Linked DNA regions of Homo sapiens. The protein of the gene in region 1 purifies or fractionates together with the protein of each later gene. This does not show direct contact. Each region holds a gene or a part of one and is shown in the gene's direction. Other genes may lie near its edges.

Region 1 (3,654 bases):
GACAAAGTTGGATGAGAGGGGGAAGGTTGGGAAGGAATTGAGTGAGAAATCAAGACACCATTTTGATATTGTCTTCCTTATTCTAGGTTCTGGCTACTATCCGGATGAAAGCTACAATGAAGTATATGCAGAGGAGGTCCCACAGGCTCCTGCCCTGGACTACCGAGGTAATCTACCCTGCTTCTCAAGCCCAGAAAATCTCTTTTCTGGCCTCAGACCTAGGCCCTTCCCTGAAGCATCCCCATCAGGCTTGGCTCACATGTGTCAAAACTGTAGCACAGGGAATCAGGGGCTGTGATTTCTCATCATGAACTTGGTTACTGACTTACTGTGTGACCTCACCTCTCCAGCCTGAAGGTTCTCCATGTATTATTAATCATTAAGTATTGACTAGTTACTCAATGCCTAATCCTGTGCAAGGTAAGCCTGTGGGTAATACAAGGTCTCAGATAGGGTTTTGTCCCCATCATGTAGCTTATATTCTGTTGGGGGTGATGGGGGGGTATAAAGTTAGCACATGTAGGGCAAGTAAGTGTGAAGCTATGTCATAGCAGTAAATGCAATAGGGTTTAAGAAAAAGAAGTCAGGAAAAGGGTCATGAAAGATGACATTTAGGCTAAGCTTAGAATGATAGGTGGGATTTTGAGAACCAGAAAGGGGAGGGGAGAGCATTCAGCAAAGCAGATGGCTAAAAATACGGAAGTAAGAACAAACCTGGTAGAGGAGGGAGCTAAGAAGAAACCAGCCTGATTGGAGGAAATGGAATATGGAGGGAGTAGTATCAAAGAAGGTTAAATATAGGCCAAGTGCAGTGGCTCATGCTTGTAAACCCAGCATTTTGGGAGGCCGAGATAGGTGGATCACTTGAGGTCAGGAGTTCGAGACCAGCCTGGCGAATATGGTGAAACCTCATCTCCAACAAAACTACAAAAAATTAGCCAGGCATGGTGGCATGTGCCTATAATCCCAGCTACTCAGGTGGCTGAAGCAGGAGAATCACTTGAACCTGGGAGGTGGAGGTTGCAGTGAGCCGAGAGCTGAGATGGCACCACTGCTCTCCAGCCTGGGTGACAAAGCAAGGCTCTGTCTCAAAAAAAAAAAAAAAAAAAAGTTAAATATAAAGAGTGAGACCAAATTAGGAAAGACTCCATGATCTAGGGACAATACTAATGAGAAGCATGAAAATTATCTGTGATGAATGCTGCATAGTGAGTAATTCCTGCATTAAAAGGGAAGTTAGGCCAGGTGGTATCTAATATCCCTTCTATTTCTGATTCTTTGTTTCTTTGCTTTGCAAGCCATGTGGAAGAGTTTAGCTGTTGTACTAGGATCTATAGGGAGCCCATCACATGTTTTTGCACAGAGGCATGACACAGTAAATTGTCATTTTAGAACATTAACCTGATTATTCTATGCAGAAATAGGGGTTCAGTGGTTAAGTCTGAGTCAGGGAGACTCTCCAGGAACCAGCTACAGTAATGTTGGCTAGAGATGACTGATGGTGGTGGCAAAGAAATGGAGGGTACAGATGAACCCCATAAATGTTTCAAAGAAAGAGATGACAAGACTTAGTACAGACTTGATGTACCAAGAGGCTAAGAAACAAACTGATGTCTGAAAGCACTCAGTCTGTACACCTGGAAGAAATAAGACCCCTCTCAGAAAGACAATGTCAAAAAAGAAAACTGGTTTGGTAAAGATGCCCTACAGGCGGCGGAAGGATGAAGTTGTGTGAGTCATCAGCTTAGATAGATGGGTTGTCTGAGGGAGCAGAAGGCCAGGGTCAGAGCTTTAGAAGACATCTGTAGACATGAGTAGGAGAAGAGGAACCAGCAAGGGGAAAAAAAGAGAATTAGTGGTCAGTCATGTAGGAAGATATCTGGGCAGTACCTGTCATATTACAGAAGCCACAGGAGAAGAGAGTTTTAAGGAAAGGAAGGGGTAAGAGATAAATTGTGTCAAATATTGCAAAGAAATCAAATTGAGGGTAAAGGAAAGATGTTATCTGGCAAGAAGGAGGTAAATGGTGACCTTTAAGAAAAATAGTTTCAACTGAGAAATTCTCAGAGCTTTGAGCTCCTCTGAGCATCTTTGTAGCTACCTTCTACGCACGTTCTTCTCCCTGCCAAATGGTGCATACCCACTGCCTCTCTCCTCAGCACCCACTAACTCCTAAACTCTCTACAGTCTGTTTCTCGCCCACTCACAAATCTACAACCTGAAATGACATCTCTTGAAGAAAAAAGTTCTCTCCCATGAGAGAACCAATTCCCATGACCCTTTCTTGAGCTTGTCTCTCAGTCTCTCCAGCAGCAGTGAGCACCTTCCTTTCTTCTTAATCCCCCTTCCTTGGTCTCCATGGCATTTCACAATTCTGGTCAGAGCTGAAACTGGGAAAGGAGGTGGACTCTCTGGTGGTGACAATAGAGAGAATGAGACTGGGATCTGAACTTGGGTCAACCCTGACCTGTCTCCTGAGCTGGTGGACTACATCTCCAACTGCTGCTACACACTTCCATTTGGAGATATCTAAAACAAAAGTATTTCCTCTCTCCTGAAAAATGTTCTACCTACTGACCTTCCTACTTCTGATAACACTACCATCATTCTCTTAGTTACTCGGACTTCAAAATACCTCAATGTCACCTCTAATAGGTCCTGTCACCTTTAACAGCCCCCTTTTCCTCATCACTTCCTGCCAGTCAGTCACCAAGACCTGTCATTTCTTTATTAATCCATGGGATTAAAACTTTGACCTCACACATGGATAATACAGTTGCCTCTAACTGGATTATCTGACTCATGTTTCCCCCTCCCCCAAACCTACTGGCCCACAATGACCATTTTAAATCAGAATCTGGCCTTGGTCTAGCTTCCCAGACTGACAACTTCCTACCTGTTCTCCCCACATGAAATCTGTGCTTTGGTCAGGCTGTGTTCAGTACTGTGTTCCCAACTGCTTTAGCCCACACTGAGCTTTCTCTCGCCCATTTATTCTTTCATCGAATATTTATTGAATACTTATTAGGTACCTCTTCTGAAATAAATGTTTACTGTCTAGACACACTCATTTGGCCTTCATTATGCACTGCCTCTTTGGTTAACTTTTTATTACCCTCAAGAAAATAGTTCTGTATTTAACTGTATTTAGCTATATTTCTGTATTTGACTGTATTTAACTGTATTTGTGTATTTAACTGTTTTTAACTGTATTTAACTGTTTTAACTGTATTCCTGTATTTAACTGTTTTTAACTGTATTTGTGTATTTAACTGTATTTAAGGAATCATGTGTGTTACTCTCACAGAGCCATGGTAAAAAGTAGATGCTGACCACTAGCATCCTGGGAGCAGAAGCCAGATTATGGGAGACTATAGTTTGGAGAGGTGGCTAGTAAAAAGCAACAGATGCAGAAGGTACTTTCATGGAGTCTGCAGCCCTATTATTAACATTAACCTTCTTCACTGGTTCTTCTTAAATGAGCAGAAAGCCCTTTAGAGAAATACAAGCTGCATAAGGGCCTTTGGTTTGGAGGTGTAGTGTCTCATAGCTCTTTTTAGGACTTAGTCTCAGGGCATAAAATGAATTGAGTGAAGTTAGCAATGATGAGGGGGAGGGAGTGGCCAGGAAAAGTACAACCTGAGGCCCCAGCCT
Region 2 (3,654 bases), on another chromosome or scaffold:
ATTCCTAGTCTCTCTTATTTTTCTGAATGTTTAGATTTAAAAAATATTTACCCATAACTTCTTGGGATCTCTCTGCTCCATTCCCACCCTACTGCCTCTCCTGTAGGCTTCTATGACATAGAGGAGCAACTTTTGGTTCACCTGGATTGTAGTTGCTGACTTCAGGACCTTTAGAGAATGTTTAAATTCAGTGGGATATGCTTGGATGGTTCAGAGCAGCCTTACAATACATCTTAAAAATATCACACCCACAGAAATTCTATTTTGCCCACAAAATTTGCATTGATCTAGTTCCCACTCTGTGTTGCCATTCCTAGTGATCCTCCTCCCTACCTCTCCCATTATGGTAGAAAAAACTCTGTGTCCTGGCTACATCAAAATCTGTTGGGGTGGATCTTGGACTCAGCACCCAGGGATTCTGATAAGGTAAGTTTGAGAATCCATATTTTTTCAAGGTTTACAGGTGATTCTGACAAGTAACTTGGTTGCAACCCACTGATTAAGTACATTTTTTTTTACCTTCAGGTGTGTGTATGAGGTCTTTCTAAATTTAAGAAATTTCCATAACAAATGTAACCTTAGTCATTCCAGTGTTTAACGCTTCTGACTCAAGGAATTTAAAAATTGCTAACGTAAGAGATATAGAATATAATGTCATTTCTTCTATTTATCTGGGTGCAATATGTCTGCATTGACCCTTTAGAAGGGCTTCATATATTTAGATGATATAATAAATTCTCCACCTCTCCTTTTCCCTTTTCTTCTGTTATCTCTTTTTCCTTAAATGTCATTCATACATGTTGTTTTTTGACCCTTTATCTATATACGTCTGCAATGATTTTAGAGTAAAAAACTGCAAGGCGTGATTTGAATAAGGATATAAGAAATTTTACATCATTTTCTTTATATTGTGTTCACAGTCCATAGTTACATGCTTCCTTTCTTGATGTCTCAGTTCGAATGCCTAAATTTGAACTATTGATTTTCCTTCCACCCTTTCCTGATTTTCCTGTTTTTGTTTCTCCCCCTTTCTCTGCAAATGACTTGAAACCAAAAGGTCTTCTTTTCTTTCTTTGTCAGCCTACCGTATGTGTAGTATTTTGGACAGATCACTGAACTAGGAGCCAGAAGACCAGAATTCTTCTCCAGGTCTGTTATTAATTGGTTTGGTGACCTTGTAGGAGAGCCACTGTTTCCGTCCTCCATTTTCTGATGTTCATTGTTCATGGTCACAGAGCCAATTAGAGTTGAGACTAGAATTCCTTTCTTCTGGTGTCCAGTGCCTCATTCACTGTCCTCATTGCTTCCATCTCGTGTACAAATGCGCTTATGTGCACAAAAACTCTTATAACATCCTCAAGTGCTTATTGTTAATGCGTACATGAGGAAGGAATCGTGTATTTTCATTTATGTGTTTATTCTAATGCCCATACCCTACCCCTGTACCTGGCATGATGCCTTGGTATCTAATAGGCACACAATAAATACTTGTTCAGTCGAACAATTATTTTTAGCCATTTTCTTATTTTGGACAACTGTGGTACTCCTAGACATTTTAAAAACAGTATTTGCAGGAGTCATGCTTACCTTACATTTGGGGAAAAACCAAATTTTTCCCTTCCCCAGATGTTTCATTTTAACTTGTAATTTTGAATTTCTTTGTGTGTGGGGTTTCTTTCTTTCTTTTTCTGATCACTTCTGCAATTTATAAAGGTCACTTTGACTTTGGAATCTCACTTCAAAGGCACTGCCATCCACCCCCTGCCTCTCACTCAAGTTTGCTTCCACTGCTTCCTGTATTACTGTATTACTAGGCCAGCAATTTCTGTTATTTTGTCCAGAATAGCCACACCTTATTGTAATTTCATCATTTTGGGGACTAGTCATTTTTGGAATACTATTTTTAAAATTAGAGTTAACTAAGTTTATATTTATTTTGATAATTTTTTTTGAGATTTTTTTCATTGAGTTGGATATTGCAAACTTGTACTGGATTGAGAGAATATGTACATTTAGTAAAGTATATTTGCTTTTTTTTTTTTTTGAACCAAGAGAGTCCCCTGAACACCCTACTGACAAAAACTAAAGATGAAATATGATGAATAAATATTTGAGAGAATCACATGGTGTTGAGTTGTCTCTGCCACATGATTTTGATCCTTGAGGGCCAGGTCTGTGCTACACACATTTCTTCTCTGTACTACAGAACTTGTCTGGCATGTGCCCCAAATTCAGAGTCAACTGAGCAGCAGGTCTTAGTCACAGCATCTATGACTCCTGCTTTCCCACCTTTAGAACATTCTATAGGAGAGGCTGATGGTGAGTTGGAGTGTGTTTCTATGTTCTTTTTTCCTTTGAAGAGATAGGATCAGTTGAAAGCTGACCCCACCCACAGACTTTTTTTGCTATCTCTTTTAATTAATTAAGGAGTGGCTGAAATTTTCCTCTTTGTTGACTTATGCATTGGCGGGAACTTTAAAATTCATCTAGTCTTTCTGTCCATCCCATGCTGGATCTGATGTTTACAACATTCTAGTCAAGAGGTACCATATTTTCTCTCTTCTTGAACATCTCTTGTGGTAGACAGCTCTCCACAGCAGTTTATTCCATCTTTGGCCAGCTCTAATTCTTAGAAAGATCTTCTTATATTCAGCTGTAATCCGTCTCCTCATGACTTGTCCTCATTGACATCTACTCAGAAATTTGTCTCAGAGTCCTGAGACCTGTGCAGGTGATAGGGACCCAAAGAGATGCTTGTCTGTAGACTTTACTGAGCTGACACCCAGCTCTCCATAAAAGGAGTCAAACCCAGTGAGGAGCATGTCTGAGGTGATTGCTCAGGTAAAGCATCTTAGCCCTACTTGTTTCATACCTCCCTGCACAGGTGGGCACTGGTGGGAGAATAACATTTATCAAGCAGTGTTTCCCTAACCTCTCTTATGATAAGAATAGCTCAGGTGTTCTCATGGAGATTCTGATTCAGTGCATCTGGAGTGTCATCTGGGAATTTGTGTGTTCAAGAAATAGCCAGGTGATTCTTACATTAGGAAAGTTTTAGAATCACTGCAGAGTGAATCTGGGAAATCAAAGTGTTTTTGTTTGTTTGTTTTTTGAGAGTATTAGAGACAGGTTGCTTTGGCTAGATCCTGTGGTCATTTTTCCCCCTTGGAAATGCCTCCTACTTGCTGGCCTCACTTAGTACAGAGAAGAAAGCTGCTATGGTATAAGGTTAGTAAAGTTGTTTTGTCTTAAAAGAAATTTGCGAAATCCAGCATTTTCAGACTTCTGTTTGTGTTGTATGACTTTGTTGTAAGCCTCCTTATTCCTCCATTAGAATGTTACCTGAGATGTTAGAATGCATAGGAGTTCCACAGCCTTTTTGGTGTCCACTAAAGAATTCTGTCCTCAGCCGTTGCAAATGGTGCTTCCTTTGAGGATTTCTGCTTCATTAGCTCATGAACACATATTTGGTGTCGGCAGTTTCCCTCAGATGTGTTAGTGTGGAGAGATATAAAGGTCACTCATTTCTGGCAGTCCTGCTTTTGGGGTTTCTGGGCTGCTGCAGCAAATGAAATAAGGAAAGGAAAATAAAGGAGGAATCTAGGGCTTCTTGAGCAGAACAAAACAATCTGCAAGAAGGGGCACAGGATTGCT
Region 3 (3,654 bases), on another chromosome or scaffold:
CATCTGAACCATGAGGATCTGGTGGCTTCTGCTTGCCATTGAAATCTGCACAGGGAACATAAACTCACAGGACACCTGCAGGCAAGGGCACCCTGGAATCCCTGGGAACCCCGGTCACAATGGTCTGCCTGGAAGAGATGGACGAGACGGAGCGAAGGGTGACAAAGGCGATGCAGGTACTCACCTGACGGCTTCGGCTGCCTTTCAACTTCTCTCTTCATTCCTTTCATCTCATTCACTCATCATCTGTGTGATTTTCCACCTACCCACTCACACCCCATCCATCCATACATACATCAACCCAGCAACACTCACTGGAGCCTGACCCCATTCATCCATCCACCCATCTGCCCAGCAACACTCACGGGGTCTGCTCCATGCCAGACTCTGTGCCAGGTGCTGGTGGAGAGCACAGGGCAAGATCGCCATGACCCCTGCCCTCCTGGGTTCTCTCATCTCTGACACCGCAGAACATTTTCAGTAGTATACGATGTCATGGATCCTCCCATCTCAGGTGACAGGTATGATGGATTTTTGGCAACAAAAGGCTAATAGAGAGATCTGATCACGAATTATTTGGCAGCAAGCACCCAGCTGCAGTGCAGGTGAGAGCTAATACCGCATCATGCCATGAAGCAGGAGATGCGGAGTGACAGATGACACAAAAGGAGACGAGAATCTGAAACCATACAGCTGCTGCTTATGCATCTATATGACCTAGGTTGGGACCCTGTCCCAGGGTCTGGGGATCTGGGGGACAGGATTCAGCCTCTGGGAGGGAGATTTGCCAAAGCTGAGAAGTCCGAGTGGTTTCCATAACAACAACCAATAGACTTGGTTTCCGAATGGGGTACCATTCTTGAGGCCTGGTCTTGACCATAGGGTCACATATCTAAGGCATATGCAGAATGATCCATCTGGGTTAAGGGCACAGTTCAGTGGCATTACAAAAAAATATATCAAAACTTCTATGGACCTTTTTAAAGATAAGTTTGTGTTTCTAACACATCTCAGCTTATGGCATTTGGTGGCCTGATGATGTTTTGAGTGGGCTGGATGAAGCCAAGGGTCACCAGGAAGCAACATTCTTTCTAACCACCATCCTGCACATCTGCTCTGTGAGGTGTCTTCTCCTGGCTCACATCTCCAGCTCATTGACACTGTTCCAGTCCCCAGGTAGCAAACAGCCCAGTCCAAATGAATAGCAAAACCTTACCATTAATGAAATCAGGTCTTCTGCCCTCACACTGGGACCACAGTAGTGTGTGTGTGTGTGTGTGTGTGTGTGTGTATTGTATTTCTGAATATATAAGATTTTCATTTTTTGTTATAAAATTTTACACACAAAAGGAGATAAATAGGTGATAGATAAAAAATAGAGGACAAAGACAAACACTCCTATATTCAATACCAAATTTCTCTACCTCTTCCCTGTTGAATTTCTCTCCTCTTTTCTCACCAGTGTCCATTCTTTCAAGTTTTATATACTTCTTAGAAGCAAATTATGTATCTATTTTTCTACGTAGTTCATAGGTATTATATATAATATATATTACTTCTTAGAAGGATATTCATTCACATTGCTCACACTAAAAATTTACTTCATTTTTATCTTATCTTAAAGTGTATTTTTGTATATGTTTTATACCAAACATATTTTCCATATACTACCTGTGCATAATGTAGAAACATATAAATATCTACTGATTGGGGTCTGTGTTCATGCTTTGTGAGTTGTGGTTGCGTGATCATGAAAGCTCAGAGGCCACCGCTCTAGAGAATGGGAGAAACGAGAGCCAAGCAGGGAAACAAAAAGAGGGAAGGAGAGGAAGACACAGGGGAGCAGCCAGTGGAGGGGAGGGGAGGGGAGGGGAGCGCAGGGAGGGGCAAATGTAGGGATAAGCCCCCTCCATTCAGAGGTCCCACGCTGACCAAGGCCCCACTCAGGAGCGCTGGTGTCCCAGGAGAACAGACATCGTGACAGAAATAAGTCTGCCTGTGTCAGTCCTGTCTCAGGACCTGCAAGCCGGCCCAGCCTGCCCCTGTCGCCCCACAGCCACGTCAGTGGGTCTGAAGTATGGGAGTCTCTGCTGCTTTGTGAGAAGCCAGAGTCTGGGGTGAGCTGTGGCCCAATGAGCACTCTACTGCCATAGCCAGAGCCACCTTCAACCTGCTGACGGATAGCACGCCGACCTGGAGCTCAGGGGGGCCTGTTCTGAGCACAAGGACTTGAGTGTAGTCAGCAGAGCCCCACTCACCTGATGTTCTCTGCCAGCTTGATTGGTGGCATTTCCCCCAGTGTAAGGCACTAGAGGGATCCTTCCAGAACTCTCTCTTCTATCTTGGGATAGTGTCACGTAACCATAGTCATCTGTGTTTTCATAGGAGCCTAGTAAATCTTCCGTTCCACTCTCCTCAAGAGTAATGGAAGAGAAACAGAGTGAGGAAACCTCCTGGCACCTCCAACATTCAGACCACGTCCCAAGTCCTTGTCGCAGGAGAGGAACACAATCGTGACAGTCAGTCCCCATTGCACACACTCCCTCTTCGTCCTGTCTTGCTGTGCGCTCTAGGCACGTCCTAGAGATGGGCGCTTGGGAAGTCACTCAGTTCATTTCTTAGGTCACTTATCCCACGCAGCTCAGCACCCCAGATGCCCGCTCATGCCTGCCTCTCTCCACCTGCGCTTGTGTGGAGGACAGAGTGCCCGTCAGGGCGGGGGTCACCCCCAGACTCTCCAACACACATGGCTGATGGAGACCAATGGCCAGAAAAATCAGAAATGGAATTTCAACTCATGCCTGTTTTCTGCTTTTCCACCTAGGAGAACCAGGACGTCCTGGCAGCCCGGGGAAGGATGGGACGAGTGGAGAGAAGGGAGAACGAGGTTAGTAGTTCCTATTTATGGTGCTCTAATTCTGAGCTGTCGACTATTTAACAATATTACCATGGACAAGTCCTCCATGCTGATTATAATCTTACAATAAAGGCAACACAGTTCTTACTCTCCAGACGGGGGGATTCTGCAGGGATTGGCAGGCTTTGCAGAGGGCTGGGTAGTAAATATTCTCAACTCCGCAGGCCATACAGATCTGTCACCACTACTCAACTTCCCCTTGTAGTGAAAAGAAGCTGTAGATGCTCCATAAATAAGCATGGCTCTGTTCCAGTGACACCATATGTGTGAAGACTGAAATGGGAATTTCCCATGGTTTCCATGTATTGTGGAATATTATTTGTGACCATTTAAACATGCAAACCATGGCCGAGCACCATGGCCCACACCTGTAATCCCAACACTTTGGGAGGCCCAGGTAAGAGAATCGCTTGAACCTAGGAGTTCCAGACCACCCTGGGCAACATAGTAAGACTTTGTCTATACAAATAAAAAAAAAATTAGCTGGGCATTGTGGCACGTGCCTGTAGTCCCAGCTACCCAGGAGGCTGAGGTGGGAGGATCGCTTGAGCCTGGGAGGTTGGGGCTGCCATGAGCCATGATCTCGTCACTGCACTCCAGCCTGGGTAACAGAGTGGGTGACCCTGTCTCAAAGCAACAAAAAAACAAGCAGACAAACAAAACCCAGAAAAACAAAAAAACATGTAAACCATATTTGTTTAGCTTGCGGGAGGGAGGCTGAATTTGGCCTGTGGCTG

Evidence for each region.
Region 2: the proteins of SRPX2 (region 1) and NOTCH2 purify together in Homo sapiens (co-immunoprecipitation; one large-scale study listed by IntAct). This does not show direct contact.
Region 3: the proteins of SRPX2 (region 1) and C1QTNF9 purify together in Homo sapiens (co-immunoprecipitation; one large-scale study listed by IntAct). This does not show direct contact.

What each region holds. Positions count from the first base shown.
Region 1 is NC_000023.11:100,650,699-100,654,352, forward strand, and holds part of SRPX2 (sushi repeat-containing protein SRPX2 precursor), read left to right. Parts: intron 1-86; coding exon 87-167; intron 168-3,654. UniProt on the Homo sapiens protein: Acts as a ligand for the urokinase plasminogen activator surface receptor. Plays a role in angiogenesis by inducing endothelial cell migration and the formation of vascular network (cords). Involved in cellular migration and adhesion.
Region 2 is NC_000001.11:120,063,142-120,066,795, reverse strand, and holds part of NOTCH2 (neurogenic locus notch homolog protein 2 isoform 1 preproprotein), read left to right. Parts: intron 1-3,654. UniProt on the Homo sapiens protein: Functions as a receptor for membrane-bound ligands Jagged-1 (JAG1), Jagged-2 (JAG2) and Delta-1 (DLL1) to regulate cell-fate determination.
Region 3 is NC_000013.11:24,315,994-24,319,647, forward strand, and holds part of C1QTNF9 (complement C1q and tumor necrosis factor-related protein 9A precursor), read left to right. Parts: 5' UTR 1-10; coding exon 11-176; intron 177-2,824; coding exon 2,825-2,887; intron 2,888-3,654. UniProt on the Homo sapiens protein: Probable adipokine. Activates AMPK, AKT, and p44/42 MAPK signaling pathways.